4 linked regions of the Homo sapiens genome follow. The protein of the gene in region 3 purifies or fractionates together with the protein of the main gene of each other region. This does not show direct contact. Each region holds a gene or a part of one and is shown on either strand. Other genes may lie near its edges.

Evidence for each region. Proteins that work in one complex are often made in the same cells at the same time.
Region 1: the proteins of PCDH12 (region 3) and PTPRS purify together in Homo sapiens (affinity purification with mass spectrometry; 2 studies listed by BioGRID and IntAct, with this or other methods). This does not show direct contact.
Region 2: the proteins of PCDH12 (region 3) and EFNB1 purify together in Homo sapiens (affinity purification with mass spectrometry; 2 studies listed by BioGRID and IntAct, with this or other methods). This does not show direct contact.
Region 4: the proteins of PCDH12 (region 3) and CELSR2 purify together in Homo sapiens (affinity purification with mass spectrometry; 2 studies listed by BioGRID and IntAct, with this or other methods). This does not show direct contact.

Annotation. Positions count from the first base shown.
Region 1 is NC_000019.10:5,222,313-5,225,812, reverse strand, and holds part of PTPRS (receptor-type tyrosine-protein phosphatase S isoform 1 precursor), read left to right. Parts: coding exon 1-86; intron 87-2,515; coding exon 2,516-3,124; intron 3,125-3,500. UniProt on the Homo sapiens protein: Cell surface receptor that binds to glycosaminoglycans, including chondroitin sulfate proteoglycans and heparan sulfate proteoglycan.
Region 2 is NC_000023.11:68,832,021-68,835,520, reverse strand, and holds part of EFNB1 (ephrin-B1 precursor), read right to left. Parts: intron 1-3,500. UniProt on the Homo sapiens protein: Cell surface transmembrane ligand for Eph receptors, a family of receptor tyrosine kinases which are crucial for migration, repulsion and adhesion during neuronal, vascular and epithelial development.
Region 3 is NC_000005.10:141,955,403-141,959,681, forward strand, and holds the start of PCDH12 (protocadherin-12 precursor), read right to left. Parts: upstream 2,801-4,279; 5' UTR 2,450-2,800; coding exon 1-2,449. UniProt on the Homo sapiens protein: Cellular adhesion molecule that may play an important role in cell-cell interactions at interendothelial junctions. Acts as a regulator of cell migration, probably via increasing cell-cell adhesion.
Region 4 is NC_000001.11:109,266,539-109,270,038, forward strand, and holds part of CELSR2 (cadherin EGF LAG seven-pass G-type receptor 2 precursor), read left to right. Parts: intron 1-1,009; coding exon 1,010-1,104; intron 1,105-1,312; coding exon 1,313-1,522; intron 1,523-2,042; coding exon 2,043-2,226; intron 2,227-2,341; coding exon 2,342-2,470; intron 2,471-2,571; coding exon 2,572-2,752; intron 2,753-2,885; coding exon 2,886-3,053; intron 3,054-3,155; coding exon 3,156-3,282; intron 3,283-3,394; coding exon 3,395-3,500. UniProt on the Homo sapiens protein: Receptor that may have an important role in cell/cell signaling during nervous system formation.

The sequences.
Region 1 (3,500 bases), on a different chromosome or scaffold from region 3:
CGCGTACTCCATCACGGTAGCCGCCTACACCATGAAGGGCGATGGCGCTCGCAGCAAACCCAAGGTGGTTGTGACCAAGGGAGCAGGTATGCAACCCGCCCTCCTCCCACCCACCAACAGCCCCTTTGCCCCCACTGGCACCAGAGCGTGACTCCAGAGTCCTTGAGCTCACAAGGGCAGGCAGAGGGTGCACCAGGCAGCTGGAACAGTGAGACAAAGGTGTGAGGGCTGCTCAGGTGGGTGTCCAGGGCCCAGCTTGGCCCCCCCCGCCCCTGCCTCCTCCTTTGTCACTCACTTCCTGTCCCCCCGGCTCCCACCAGACAGAAACAGTTAACAGCCACCTCTGACCCCTTTGCCCTCTCAACCTTTACTTGGGCTGTTCCCTCTGCCAGGATACCCCTTCCCCTGCTGGCTGGCTCCTCTTCTGCCTTTAGGTCTCAGCTCAAGGTACACCTGGCCCTGGAAAGCCTTCCCTGATTGCCTCATCCCATAATCTTGATCCTTCTGGGCCCCCTAGTCTCCTGTGCTTCCCCCATCCAGGCTCTGGTCGCCCCGGCTAGGTTGTTATTTCAGGGTGGTGCACCTGTCTTCCCCTACTGCACCAGGAAGCCACCTTTCTCTTGGTGGCCCTGCCTCAGTTTCCCCTTCTAGCCCCTCCATTGTCCCTTCCATCGTCCCCAAGGGGCTGGCTTTTTTTTCCAGCCAAAATGGAGCTGAATTAAGAAAAAGAGGCTGCCGTGAAGATGTAAGGGGAGGGTACACCGGGCGGAGGGCACAGCCCAGAAAAAGACTTGGGGGGTGGGGCGTGGTGGTGGTGGTGGTGGGCGGAACAAGCTCGGGTGTTTCAGGAACAATCGACTGACTTCTGTGGCCTTCATCCCAGTCCCCACACCCACCCTCTCCTCGGGGACCCTTGTAGCCACACCACTGTGTACCCCACCTTTCAGGCCTCCCAGCTGGACACAGCCCCTGCCCTTGTCCACACTATTCCCTTCACGCACCTTGTCTGCGTCCTCCAGCATCCAGCTCTAACGCCACCTCCTCCAAGCAGCCTCCTGTGATCTCTCCCTCCCTTCTTCTAGCCAGCAGGGCACTTCCCTCCTCTCTCAGGGACATTGTATTAGAGCTGTGTTTGCTAAGCAGAAACCACTGCATACGCTGCTCTCCCCACCACCCTGGGTATTCATAGCAGTCCATTCAAGGCCCTGATAAGTCCTGCAGTAGAGAAGTCCATTTTCATGTATACAGCCCAGCTTTCCCCCTTCTTTGCCTGATCCCAGAACCTCTCTCGGCACATTGATTACTACCCAGGCTGTGCGAAACAAAGAGCAGGGGCGGATTTTGGATTTCTTTATGTCCCATGGGTATTGGTCAGGTGCCTGCATTGAGCAAGGGCCAAATCAACAAGGCAGGAGATGGTTGCCTTATTAATGGAAGGAGGAGGGGTTCTCTGAGTCCTCACTTCCTTGCTGTGCTTTATGCGCCCCTAGCCCAGTGCCGGCTCTACACCTTTGCATGGGCCGTTCCCTCTTCCTGGAGCACGATTCCCCCAGATCTTCTCGTGGTTCCCTCTCTTTCTTCTTTCAAGTCTTTGCTTCTTAAGTGAGGCTTTCTTGAGACCTACTTTTATTTTTAAGACGGAGTCTTGCTCTGTTGCCCGGGCTGGAGTGCAGTGGCACGATCTTGGCTCCCTGCAACCTCTGCCTCCTGGGTTCAAGTGATTTTCCTGCCACAGCCTCCTGAGTAGCTGGGATTACAGGCGTGCACCACCACCCCCGGCTCATTTTTGTATTTTTAGTAGAGACAGGGTTTCACCATGTTGGCCAGGCTGGTCTCGAACTCCTGACCTGAAATGATCTGCCCATCTCAGCCTCCCAAAGTGCTGGGATTACTTACAGATGTGAGCCACCACACCCAGCCTTGAGATCCACTTTTAAAAATCACAACCCCAGGCTGGGCACGGTGGCTCACACCTGTAATCCCAGCACTTTGGGAGGCTGAGGCGGGTGGATCACCTGAGGTCAGGAGTTCAAGACCAGCCTGGCCAATATGGCGAAACCCCATCTCTACTAAAAATACAAAATTACCCAGGCGTGGTGGTGTGTACCTGTAATCCCAGCTGCTCGGGAGGCTGAGGCAGGAGAATCCCTTGAACCCGGGAGGCAGAGCTTGTAGTGAGCCGAGATGGGGCTACTGCACTTCAGCCTGGGCAACAGAGCAAGATTCTGTCTCAAAAAAAAAAAAAAAAAAAATCACAACCGCAGCTGGGTGCAGTGGCCTTATAATCCTAGCACTTTGGGAGGCCGAGGCAGGAAGCTCACTTGAGCCCAGGAGTTCGAGGCTGCAGTGAGCCGTGATCTCACCATTGCACTCCAGGCTGGGCAACAGAGTAAGACCCCCCCCAACTCAAAAAAATGTTATATTGAAGGAAAAGAATTAAAAATACAACCCCACCTTGTGCCTCTGGGCTGGCGGATGGCGCTGGGACCCTGACACCTGCCCCGTATCCCCGCAGTGCTGGGCCGCCCAACCCTGTCGGTGCAGCAGACCCCCGAGGGCAGCCTGCTGGCACGCTGGGAGCCCCCGGCTGGCACCGCGGAGGACCAGGTGCTGGGCTACCGCCTGCAGTTTGGCCGTGAGGACTCGACGCCCCTGGCCACCCTGGAGTTCCCGCCCTCCGAGGACCGCTACACGGCATCAGGCGTGCACAAGGGGGCCACGTATGTGTTCCGGCTTGCGGCCCGGAGCCGCGGCGGCCTGGGCGAGGAGGCAGCCGAGGTCCTGAGCATCCCGGAGGACACGCCCCGTGGCCACCCGCAGATTCTGGAGGCGGCCGGCAACGCCTCGGCCGGGACCGTCCTTCTCCGCTGGCTGCCACCCGTGCCCGCCGAGCGCAACGGGGCCATCGTCAAATACACGGTGGCCGTGCGGGAGGCCGGTGCCCTGGGCCCTGCCCGAGAGACTGAGCTGCCGGCAGCGGCTGAGCCGGGCGCGGAGAACGCGCTCACGCTGCAGGGCCTGAAGCCCGACACGGCCTATGACCTCCAAGTGCGAGCCCACACGCGCCGGGGCCCTGGCCCCTTCAGCCCCCCCGTCCGCTACCGGACGTTCCTGCGGGACCAAGGTAGGCGCGCGGCGACCCCTGCACCAGAGCCGGACCGGGCCTTGCGCCCACCCCCACCCCAGCCCCCTCCCTCTCCCCTGCCCAGGTAAGTGCTCACTTTTCTGCTTCCTCGTGGTCACTCAAGGCAAGTCCGGACCCCGAGGCTCCGGCGTTGGCAAAGGTGGGACGTGCCTCGGTGGCACCACCGCCCCCCACCACTGCCCCCTCCCCTTGCTCCCCTCCCCCCTCTTCCTCCTCCTCCACCTTCTTTCTGCAGCCTCTGCACCCGTGCCGTCTCCCGAAGCAGGGACTTGGGACAGGACAGGGCAGGGCCGGGCCAGGGCCAGGCAGGAAGGCCGTGGGCATGGGCACAGCGGACGACAGGGAGCGCCTGGGC
Region 2 (3,500 bases), on a different chromosome or scaffold from region 3:
AGCCAGTGAGAGTGAAGGCCAAAGCTAGGTAGAACACTAGTCATACTTTAAAGGGGGACCCTACAGTTCTCCCCTCTTACCAGATTAGGAGTAGGAGTAAGGGAAGAGGAGGAAGAGATATCCCGAAGTGAAACTCTTTATCCTCCACCTTACTTCCCCCCACCCTAGGACCAAGCCAAGCTTTTCTGTCTGGGGCCACCCCCAGACAAAGCCCTTTTCTGAAAAATAAAGGGATTGACATGGCTCAGCAGGAAGCCTGAAGCAGGTCACCATGGTAACCCCTGAGGCCTTCCCTCTCCAGCCTCAGATAGCCCTGGGACCCCAGGGCGCCACCCCAGGGAGTAAAAGGACTTGGGGGAGGCGGCCTAAGCTATTCCAGCTCTTCCCCCTCTACCCTAACCCAAGTTCTACCTTCAGCCTTTCTACCTAGCTTAGAAGCACCACGATGCCATCACTGCCACAAAGAATCCTGGGATATGAAAAGCCTGAAGGGGTTGGGGACAGTAGCCTCCAAGGCCCTGGACTGGCCAGAAACCAACTAACCAACAGCCCCCTCCTTGTTTTCTCCGGATAAGCCCTTCTCCACCCATGTGAATACAATTTACAGGGGGCAGGGAGAGCTTGCAGCTAGGAGGGTCTTGCCCAGAAAGCTGCCCACATCCCACCAGGTCTATACTTCTTTCCCTGTCACCCTGCTCTCAGGCTCTAGCAACTTGTGGTCAGAGAATGACCAAAGGGGGAGCCTGGTTCTAGGCCATGCAAGCCCAAGTCTGGTAGAAGCCTCTAGCCTCAACCTCGATTCAGTGACCCCACGACCACTGCACCTGCACCTCCCAGGGTGGCAAGACCAATGGAGGACAGACCCCAAGCCAGAGCTCAAGTCTGTTCTCATCCCAGCTAGGGTGGGGAGCCCCCAAATTAAAGGCTCCTCTTTAACTCCCCCAGCTCCACCCAGCCCCCGAGGCTGGCAGGAGCAGGCCTGGCATGTCCCAGCAGTGCCCGCCCAGGCGTGGGTGGGCAGGAACAGCAGCTGGGTCCTGGCACACACAGCTCTGTCAGAGGCAGGGAAGCCAGGAGAGTCCTGGAGGAAGTCACCCTCCCCATCTACACTGAACTATGCCCTTCCCTCTGCCCCACCTGGCTAAGGCTCGTGTCCATTATGAATTTAATACCCCCCCTCCTCGATGTCGATGTCTGCTTTCTGTGGGGTCCCTGAGAAGAGAGATTCTTAGCTCAGAGAGGAACCAAAGGTGCCACTCAGAGCTCCGCAGGGAGTGTGCCAGGCAGTGAGTTGGCTGCCTTTAGTTCAGGTCACCCAAGCAGTCAGCCCTGGAAGGTAGGCCTAGAAAAGTCAAATGAGGAAGTTGGAGCACTGCTCACCCCACACAGACAGGGCCTGAGTCACAGGGACAGATGCTTGCACACCTGCGAGGTAAGAGGGGAACTCAGGGGCAGGGAGCCAGGGCCTCTTCCCAAACCCCACCTTGAATTCCTGTCTCTCCTACATTTCAAGGCAGCAGGAATGAATGGCACACAACACAGCTCTGCCCCCATAGGCAAGTCATTGACTGGCCTTAGACAAGTCACTTCCCTTGTCCGGGCATATGCCTTCTTATCTGGAAAATGGGACCAATACCTACTTCCCAGGGTTGTTGGGAGCATTCGATGAGATCATATATGAGAATGCATTGTAAGTAGCAAGGTGCCGCCTGCCTATTAGTTAGCATGCCAAACACAGCATTATTTAGAAGTAAAAAGCTGAAGGAGCTTACATTCCTGGCTGCTAGCACCCTGACCCAAAACAATGATCGTGAAACACGCCCAAGAGGGGCTGCTATGGTCTGCGGGGTAAGGAACCCAGAATGTGGCTGGTGAGCACCCCCGTATCTCAGCTCCTCTAATAGTCACAGAGTGGACTCTCCCCCAAACCTGGTGTTCCCATGGCAACTAGCAGCCTCCTGGCTGGCCCACTCTATCTCCTTTAGTCCCTAACCCCAGAAAACAGTGATGCACCATAGTATCCAGGGCCCACGCATCCCCATTCACCTGAGCGGATGAGACAACAGAGAGCCCAAGGGAAGAAAGGGAACCCTTGATTCAGTCCCCACCCCAGCCTCACAGGTCCTTCTTGCCCTTGCCTGGCTGCCCTATGTGGGAGAGGGGAGGCAGGGGAACAGGGGACTTTAGGAGCTGCTGGATTCCCATCACTCTCAGGCTCCCACCTGTGGCCAATCAGCCACAAAGTAGAAGAGGTCAGGTCCCTAACCACCCCGGAAAAGGGCCCCCTGAGCTGGCCTCCCCAGGACTGTGAGCTAGAACAGCTGTGTGGGGCTGGGGCCAACACTTTGGCTTGGAGCAGGCAAGCATGGGTTGGGGTCTGCAGCTGCCCCCACCCATGCTGGAGTCAAGGGTCCTGGATGCCAAGCTGAACCCCCCCACCCCCACCCCCTTGTAGGGAATGTTTGTAATGTGATCTCAGGCACATTCTGACTCCCTGGAGGTGGGGGAACCTGAGTGGGGGGCAGGAAGGGGTCAGGACGGGACTGAGAGACTGAACTGCAGCAGCTGGACTTGGCTGAGGACTCAAGTGTGAGGCCTGCCGGCTGCCCCAAGTTCCCAGGGGAAGAGGCTGCGGGAGGGGTCGCCTAGGACCATTTAGATAACAGCCCCCCAACTCAGACACACACACACACACACACACACACACACGCACACACAGAGGTTCCTAAAAAAAACTCTAGCAGGACCAAACCCATCCCCCCACCTTGCGCTCATGGGGCAAATCTGACAGGAGGGGCCAAGGAGGCAGAAGCTCCTGCCACTCAGGGACTAGCATCCCAGAAGGCCCCAGCACCAATTTGGGAAAGAGGCTTGGGAGTCTTGGGCCAGCCATTCCCGCTTCCCCTCTCAGTCAGGGCTGGGGCCGGGCCGCACGCACCTTGGAACCTGGAAGCGGACCCCCAGCCCCACCACTTCTTTTATTTTGATTTTTTTTTTCCCAAGAAGGAAGCAATTAAGCAGGGTTTATAGGCACTGGGAGATTTTCTTTTTTGGGAGGGGGGTTGCCAGCTTCTGACAGGGCTGAGGAGAGAGACCAAAAGCCAGGAGAGGAAGAGGGGAAGGAAGAGAGAAAATGAGCCTGAGAGGGAGAGCACGGGCATGTGCGAGAAACAAAAGGACTTGAGAAAAAGAGGCAGAGAGTGACTAAGAGTGAGAGGGAGTGTGAGAGCAAGGCAGAGCAGGCGAGCCTAGCTGGAGAGGGGAAGTGAGCGCTGCTCGCGGAGGGTATGAGAGGGCGAACTGACACGGGCCTGAGAGGAGAACTCGGGCAGGAGGCAGAGAGGGAGGGAGACAGAGAGGGACTGTTTATTTGAAAGGCTGTGGCAGCCTGAGGGTTGGGCGCGGTGGCAGAAGCAGCCCCCAAAGCTCAAGGAGAGCTGAGGGCAGTGCCTCCTTCCTGTCCATTTGCCCCCACCACCCCGAGCCAACACATGTAGACA
Region 3 (4,279 bases):
GGAAGGGGGCCTGCAGGCAGGGGTCCCAGCCTGCTTCCATCATCGCCTCCTTGTCCACATCTTTGTGGGACTGCCCGACTTCACAAGGCTCACCTGCCTGACCCCTGAGCACAGGCACGAGGTGGATGTCTGCCTTCTGAATGTGTTTCTGGGGCCTCTTGGGCTGCTGGCGGTAGGTGGACTCGGCCTCCCGACAGTTGTAGGCCCTGTTGTCCTTCTTTTCTGTCCGGCAGATGGACATGAACAAAGCCAGGATCAACCCGAAGATGCCCAACAGTACAGCCAGGCAGATCACCGTCAGCATCGACATGCTCAAGGCCCCAGGCTTGCGGGCTGAGTCCCTCAGGTGGTCCACACTGGTGACAAACATGACCCTCAACAGGGCTCGGGTCTGTAAGGGGGGGCTTCCCTGGTCCTCTACTACTATCTCCAGCTCCCACTCACTCCCAATGAGGCTGCTGGCATTGGTGACATTGACGAACAGCTGCCCCGTATGAGGGTTGAGGATGAAGAGGTGGGCTTCATTTCCACTGCGGATGCTGTAGAGGGGCTCTCCATTTGCCCCCGAGTCTGCATCTCTTGCCACAATGGTTGTCAAAAGGAATGGCCGGGAGCTGTGAGTGGCCAGTGGAGGTGTGTCAGTGCCCGCTGGGCCCAAGCCATTGGGAGTCTCGATGGGCACCAGCAGGTGGCCTGTGGAGGCATTCACAAGCACGGAGAGGCTGGCTTTTCCATCGCTGAGCACAGGCTGGACCACCTCTGGGGCATTATCATTGGCATCCAAGAGGCTGACCCACACAGAGACACTGGATGCAAGCATGGGTTGCCCGCTGTCCTCTGCGATCACCTGGAACTCAAAGCCGGCCATCTCTTCATAGTTCAGTGACCTCTGAGCAGTGACCTCTCCTGTGTTGGAGTCAATAGCTACTAAGTGAGCAACTGGGGAGTCCTGGATGCGGTATGAGACTTTTCCATTAATGCCCAAGTCTGCATCATGAGCCTTGATGGTAATGAGGTGAAGAGAGGGTAAGTTGTTTTCCCGCGTGGAGACTTCATACCTGCTTTTCTCAAACACAGGTGCATTGTCGTTGATGTCACTGATCTGAATGCTGAGCTGTTTCTTGGCTGATAAGGGCTGGAGTCCTTGGTCTTGGGCTAACAGAGTGAGGGTATATTTGGGCCACTGCTCTCTGTCCAGTGTGGCATTGGTTAGCAACATGTATGTGTTGCCATTAGTTCTTTTCAGCCTGAAGTGGCCCAGCTCTTGGCTCAGCCAGCAGTGGACCAAACCATTGTGTCCTGAATCCAAGTCATCTGCCATGACAAGAGCAATAAAACTGTCCTTGGGAAGAGCTTCTGACACCAGTGATGGCTGGGAGGCCCATGTGACGTGGATGCTTGGGATGTTGTCATTGACATCCAGAACCTTGATGAGAACTTTGCAATGGGCTGGGATAGGATTGGGACCCAGGTCCCTTGCCTGAACATCCACCTCGTAGGCAGGGTTCTTTTCATAGTCTAGAGGTCGACGCAGAATGACCTGGCCTGTCTTGGCATCAATACTGAAGGTGTCCAGCACCTCTGGAGGCATGTGCTTACTGAGGAAGAACTCCACCTCCCCATTGGGGCCTTGGTCAGGGTCTGTGGCGGTCAGTTTTATGAGAAGCGTACCAGGTGCAGCATCTTCTTGGATTTCCAGTGCCAGTGAACTCTCAGCAAACGCAGGGCTATTGTCATTGGAGTCCAAGACGTTGACCTTGACCAAGCTGGTACCTGACTTGGGGGGGTTCCCATTGTCATAGGCAGTTAACACCAGATCAAAAAATGAATGGATTTCCCTGTCCAGCTCCTTCACCACTATGAGTTCTGCATGTTTGGTCTCATCAGGGCCCACAATGACATCCAAGGCAAAGTGCTCACTGGGAGACAGAGTGTAGGTGTGCAGGGTGTTAGGGCCTGTGTCTGGGTCAAGAGCTCTGTCCAGGGGGATCCGGGTTCGCAGAGAGGCGCTCTCAGAGATTTCCAGCTCCTGCTCGCCTTTGGGAAACCGTGGCTGGTGGTCATTGATGTCCAGCACTTGGATCTCCACATGGATCAGAGCCAAATCCCCTGTGGCAAGCACATCAAAGGAAACCAGGCAGGGATCCCACTGTCGGCACAGCTGCTCTCGATCCAGCCGCCTGCCTGTGCTGAGCAAGCCTTCCTCAGAGTCCACCTGAATGGGGAGCGCCTGAGGCAGCTGCAACACCTGGAAGGCAGCCCCAGCTTGCCTCCGCCTCTCCTCCCGGCCCAGTTCCTGGGACAGCTTCCCGATCACTGTACCAGATGGCACTTCCTCTGACACTTGGTATTTCACCGTGAGAGTGGTCACCTCCTGACAATCCCCTAAAAGAAATAAGTAGCCACCTGGCCCCAAAAGCCCCAGCAGAAGTTGCAGAAGTTGCATCATGCTTACCGCCAAGTGGGCTAGATTCAGAAACCACTAGAGTTCTTTCAAGGCTGGACAAGTCCTCCAGTGTTTCCTGGATGGCTTGATCAGCCCCGTGCTCCTTCCCCCAGAGCTGCCGGCACAACCTTGTCCCATAGTTAGATGATTATGAAACAAGCAGGACCCCAAGGCAAGGCCATCTTCATTGGAAGCGATCTGAGATGTCCAAACGCCGATCAAGAATTGCCAGGGGAGACCCCCTACTGGGGAACTAGTTGGTCCACTTCAGCAAATGATGGACAAGAGCTGGTCTAAGAGGGACCTGACCCAGTTGAGCAGGATGTGGGACTCTGACTGCCAAACAGTTGCTAGGCTGGGGAAACAGAGAAGCAGCTTTTTCCTATGGAAACCCCACCTACAGGAAAAGGGAGGGCTGTGAGTTTCAATGCCAATTAGAGAAAGAGCATTTCCTGTGAAGCTAAGTGGCCTGCCGCTGAGGAGGATGAGGCCGGGGCTCCGGGGACAGGCCAGATGGGAAGCTGCTGTCCACGCAGCAAGGCGGCTGCTGAGGGAAAGGGAGCCTCTGCATCACCAAGTGAGCAGAAAACTTGAGCCTCCACCTGCTTGCACGTGGACTGATGCCCCTCCCGGGCAAGTCATGTTTCCTGTTTCTCTCCCCTTCCCCAACTCTCTTTGTTCCTATCTTTTCCCCCATTGTTCCCCTCTCATTCCTGTCTTTTTCCCAATCTTGTTTACCTCTCTGTCTTGACTCTGCCCTGATCACCCGTTTTTGTCTCACTGGAAAGCAGCTGTGATTAACAGAGCAGCCATCAGAGGTAAACTGCCTGAGTTCAAATTCTGACTTTGCAACTTACCAGCGGTGTCATCTGGGACAAGTCACTTAACTTTCCTGGGCCTCCATTACCTCATCTGTAGAGTGGGGATGGGAGTAAGAATAGTAGCCCTTTCAGCAGGAAACTGTGAGGATTAAACGAAATGATGTAGGAAGGGCTTTGGCCTGGGCCTGGCCCCGAGTCACAGGCAGTGACGTTATTGCAAGGGGTGAGTGTTGTAATCTGCACAACTTGTCACACCCTATGGCTACCTCTGGATCTTGGATTGGCCCTGGGGCAGTCCCTGCCCACACTGACTTATGAGGGTGCCCATGGTCTTGATTCCAGAAGCTGCAAGAACCTGTGCAACTTGACCGTGTGGCTCTCCTCCCGCTTCCCTTCTGCCCCCCTCCAGCCTTGAAGTCCATTGTTCTCTGCATCTGGTCCAGACTGAGTCTCTGTCTGGGGAACCCCCAGCCTCCCACTCCTCTTGGAAGCTTTTATACGTTTCCCTCTCCCACACCTTCCCCTCCCTTTCATCTATGTCTTTCCCCCTTCCTCCAATTCTTCTCTCCCCAGTTTTGTTTATAAGAGTCCCGTGAAGCACATCTCCTTTGCTGCCCCCAACTCTCCTTTTAGATGTTTTAAGGGATACCCTATCTTCCACTCACCTCCTCATAAGGTGAAATTCAGGAAGGAAGGAGGTGAATGAGCAGTTTGCTTGGGTGGGCTTTGAGGTGGCCTTATTGCTTCTTATTGTGCCCTTCAGTTTGCTGCCCCCAACATTCTCCCAGCCTTATACCCACTTCAAGGTTGATCCCTGAGGCTCATGAAGCATTTGAGGTGATGAGAATGAACGCCAGCTTCCCTAGATGGGTGTTTGCTACTAAGCCCTTGGGGCCAGAGATGCCATGTTTGGACCCAAGTGGCACTAGTCAGGGCTTATTGGCATGGAGGCCTGTGGTCATCAGGACTGGGGTGGCTAAGGGACAGTCACCTGCACTCCTTCCCTTTCTCT
Region 4 (3,500 bases), on a different chromosome or scaffold from region 3:
GCCGCCACCACACCTGGCTAATTTTTTTTTTTTTTTTTTTTTTTTTGTATTTTTAGTAGAGACAGGGTTTCACCATGTTGGCCAGTCTGGTCTCGAACTCCTGACCTCATGATCCGCCTGCCTCGGCCTCCCAAAGTGCTGGGATTACAGGCGTGAGCCACTGCACCCCACCACATTTTGGACTTTTTTTTTTTTTTTTTGAGACGGAGTCTCGCTCTGTCATCAGGCTACAATGCAGTGGCATGATCTCGGCTCTCTGCAACCTCCACCTCACAGGTTCAAGCGATTCTCCTACCTCAGCCTTCCGAGTAGCTGGTACTACAGGCGTGTGCTACCATGCCCAGCTAATTTTTTATATTTTTTTAGTAGAGACAGGGTTTCACCATGTTGGCCAGGATGGTCTCGATCTCTTGACCTTGTGATCAGCCCGCCTCGGCCTCCCAAAGTGCCGAGATTACAGGCGTGAGCCACCGTGCCCAGCCCACATCTTGGACTCTTAACAAAAATGCTGAAAAACCTGCACTGTGCTTGGCATAGGGCTGTGCTAGAGATTCAAAGATGAATCATGCAGGGTTCCAATCGTCAGCTCACCACCGAGTCCTGGAGTTACGCCACCACAAAGGCAGACAGTCTGGGGAGTAGGGGGTGTTGGCTGCTGACCCAGGACACCCAGCCCAGGATGGGGGCTGGCGCTGGTCCTGGACTGGCAATGAGCAGGTTCATAGGCAGGAAGTGGCGGAGAGCACAAAGTGGTGGCTGGAGACAGGCAGGATGGGGGCTCAAGGAGGTCGTATGCCCTGTTCCCCTAGAGCCCATGTGTGGACTGATCTTGCGGAGATTTTTGGCCCTGGTGTTCTACATACCTGTCTTCCTGTTTCACCAGGGCCCTTGTTTGCTAGTTACTGTCCCCGGCCCATGAGGTGCTGGCCTCCAGCAGAACCTCTCAGCCAGTCTCAGGGGCTTCCTGTGTGTCTCCCTGAGGCCGGCCCTTTTGGCTTCCTTCCCCCAGGGACTGCTGTGCGCCACTGTGATGAGCACAGGGGGTGGCTCCCCCCAAACCTCTTCAACTGCACGTCCATCACCTTCTCAGAACTGAAGGGCTTCGTAAGTGAACCCCCTCATCTCCATCTTTTCCCTGTCCTTCGTCCTGAGTCTCACTTGCCCCCACTCCCATCTTTGAGAACGGGGCTTCTGGAATTCCAGCCTGTGTGTTCCTGGGCTCCCAGCTGGAGAGGCCGTCTCTCACCTCCTGAGGTCCTTTTGCTCCAGAGTTCCTGCCCTCACTCCTGCTCCTCCGCTCCGTCCTGTCTAGGCTGAGCGGCTACAGCGGAATGAGTCAGGCCTAGACTCAGGGCGCTCCCAGCAGCTAGCCCTGCTCCTGCGCAACGCCACGCAGCACACAGCTGGCTACTTCGGCAGCGACGTCAAGGTGGCCTACCAGCTGGCCACGCGGCTGCTGGCCCACGAGAGCACCCAGCGGGGCTTTGGGCTGTCTGCCACACAGGACGTGCACTTCACTGAGGTGGGGCTTGGAGGATGCAGGGCTGGCTGGTTAGATAGGGGTCATGGTGAGTGAGCCTGCTCATGGCAACCTGGGGGGCAGAGGGGGCCCTCCCATCCCACCTACAAGGAGCTCCCTGCTGGCAGGAGGCCTCCATGAAACCCTGTGACCCCTGGCCCAGCCCTCTTCCCAACCCTTCTCATAGTAACATATGTGTGTTGGGGCATGGTCTGACCCAGAGCAGAGGCCTGCCTGTGGTACCATGGGCTGGGAGGAAGCAGTATCTCAGGACATGTGTGTGGGTCCAGGCACAGGGCTGGGAAGCTCTTATGTAGAGAATGAGGAGGAGGGCTTAGGGGCAGAGCATCCAGTGACCTGAGTGGGCAGTGCGGTCCAGGAGCATTTCAGGGGAGGCAACAGTGAGCACAGAGGGAGGGGCCTGGTGGGGAGCAGGGACTGGCCCGGGCACAGGCCGGGGCTCCATGGTGGGGATGTCAGGTGTGGGTTGTGAGCACACCCACCGTGACCTTGCCCACCCCAGAATCTGCTGCGGGTGGGCAGCGCCCTCCTGGACACAGCCAACAAGCGGCACTGGGAGCTGATCCAGCAGACAGAGGGTGGCACCGCCTGGCTGCTCCAGCACTATGAGGCCTACGCCAGTGCCCTGGCCCAGAACATGCGGCACACCTACCTAAGCCCCTTCACCATCGTCACGCCCAACATTGGTAAGGCTGGTGCCTGGGTTGGGGAGGGGTTTGTGGAGGGAGTCCCCGACAAGAGCGGCTGTGCTGGGGTCCTGCCTGCCTCACAGGTCCGATCTGTGACCATCCCCTTCCTTAGTCATCTCCGTAGTGCGCTTGGACAAAGGGAACTTTGCTGGGGCCAAGCTGCCCCGCTACGAGGCCCTGCGTGGGGAGCAGCCCCCGGACCTTGAGACAACAGTCATTCTGCCTGAGTCTGTCTTCAGAGGTCAGTGGTGGCCATGGATTGAGTTGGGAGCTGGACCCCAGTGTCTGTGCAGACTCCACAGAGAGCAGGGCCCAGCTAAGTGTGACAGTGTCCCCTCCCAGAGACGCCCCCCGTGGTCAGGCCCGCAGGCCCCGGAGAGGCCCAGGAGCCAGAGGAGCTGGCACGGCGACAGCGACGGCACCCGGAGCTGAGCCAGGGTGAGGCTGTGGCCAGCGTCATCATCTACCGCACCCTGGCCGGGCTACTGCCTCATAACTATGACCCTGACAAGCGCAGCTTGAGGTCAGCAGCTAGGGGACAGGTGTGGGTAGGGGTATGGGTCGGGCGGTGAGTGCTGAGGCATGGAGGGGGTCGGGGGCGTCTCCCCAGTCATGTGACTGCCGTGGTGACTGTGCACCTGACTGCCCCACATCAGAGTCCCCAAACGCCCGATCATCAACACACCCGTGGTGAGCATCAGCGTCCATGATGATGAGGAGCTTCTGCCCCGGGCCCTGGACAAACCCGTCACGGTGCAGTTCCGCCTGCTGGAGACAGAGGAGCGGACCAAGCCCATCTGTGTCTTCTGGAACCATTCAATCCTGTGAGCCTGCACTGCCCTCGCCCCCTCAGGCTTCGGGCTGAAAGTCCAGGCCCCTGCATGCCTCACCCTCCTTGTCTCCCTGACCCTGCCTTCCTCACACAGGGTCAGTGGCACAGGTGGCTGGTCGGCCAGAGGCTGTGAAGTCGTCTTCCGCAATGAGAGCCACGTCAGCTGCCAGTGCAACCACATGACGAGCTTCGCTGTGCTCATGGACGTTTCTCGGCGGGAGGTCGGGCCCACAGGGGCAGCTGCAGAGCCGTGGGTGGGCACCCAGGGCACGGGGCTGGGTGCTCAGGTCCTGCCCTTCCTAATTCCCTGGCCCCCTGCCACCTACTCTGCAGAATGGGGAGATCCTGCCACTGAAGACACTGACATACGTGGCTCTAGGTGTCACCTTGGCTGCCCTTCTGCTCACCTTCTTCTTCCTCACTCTCTTGCGTATCCTGC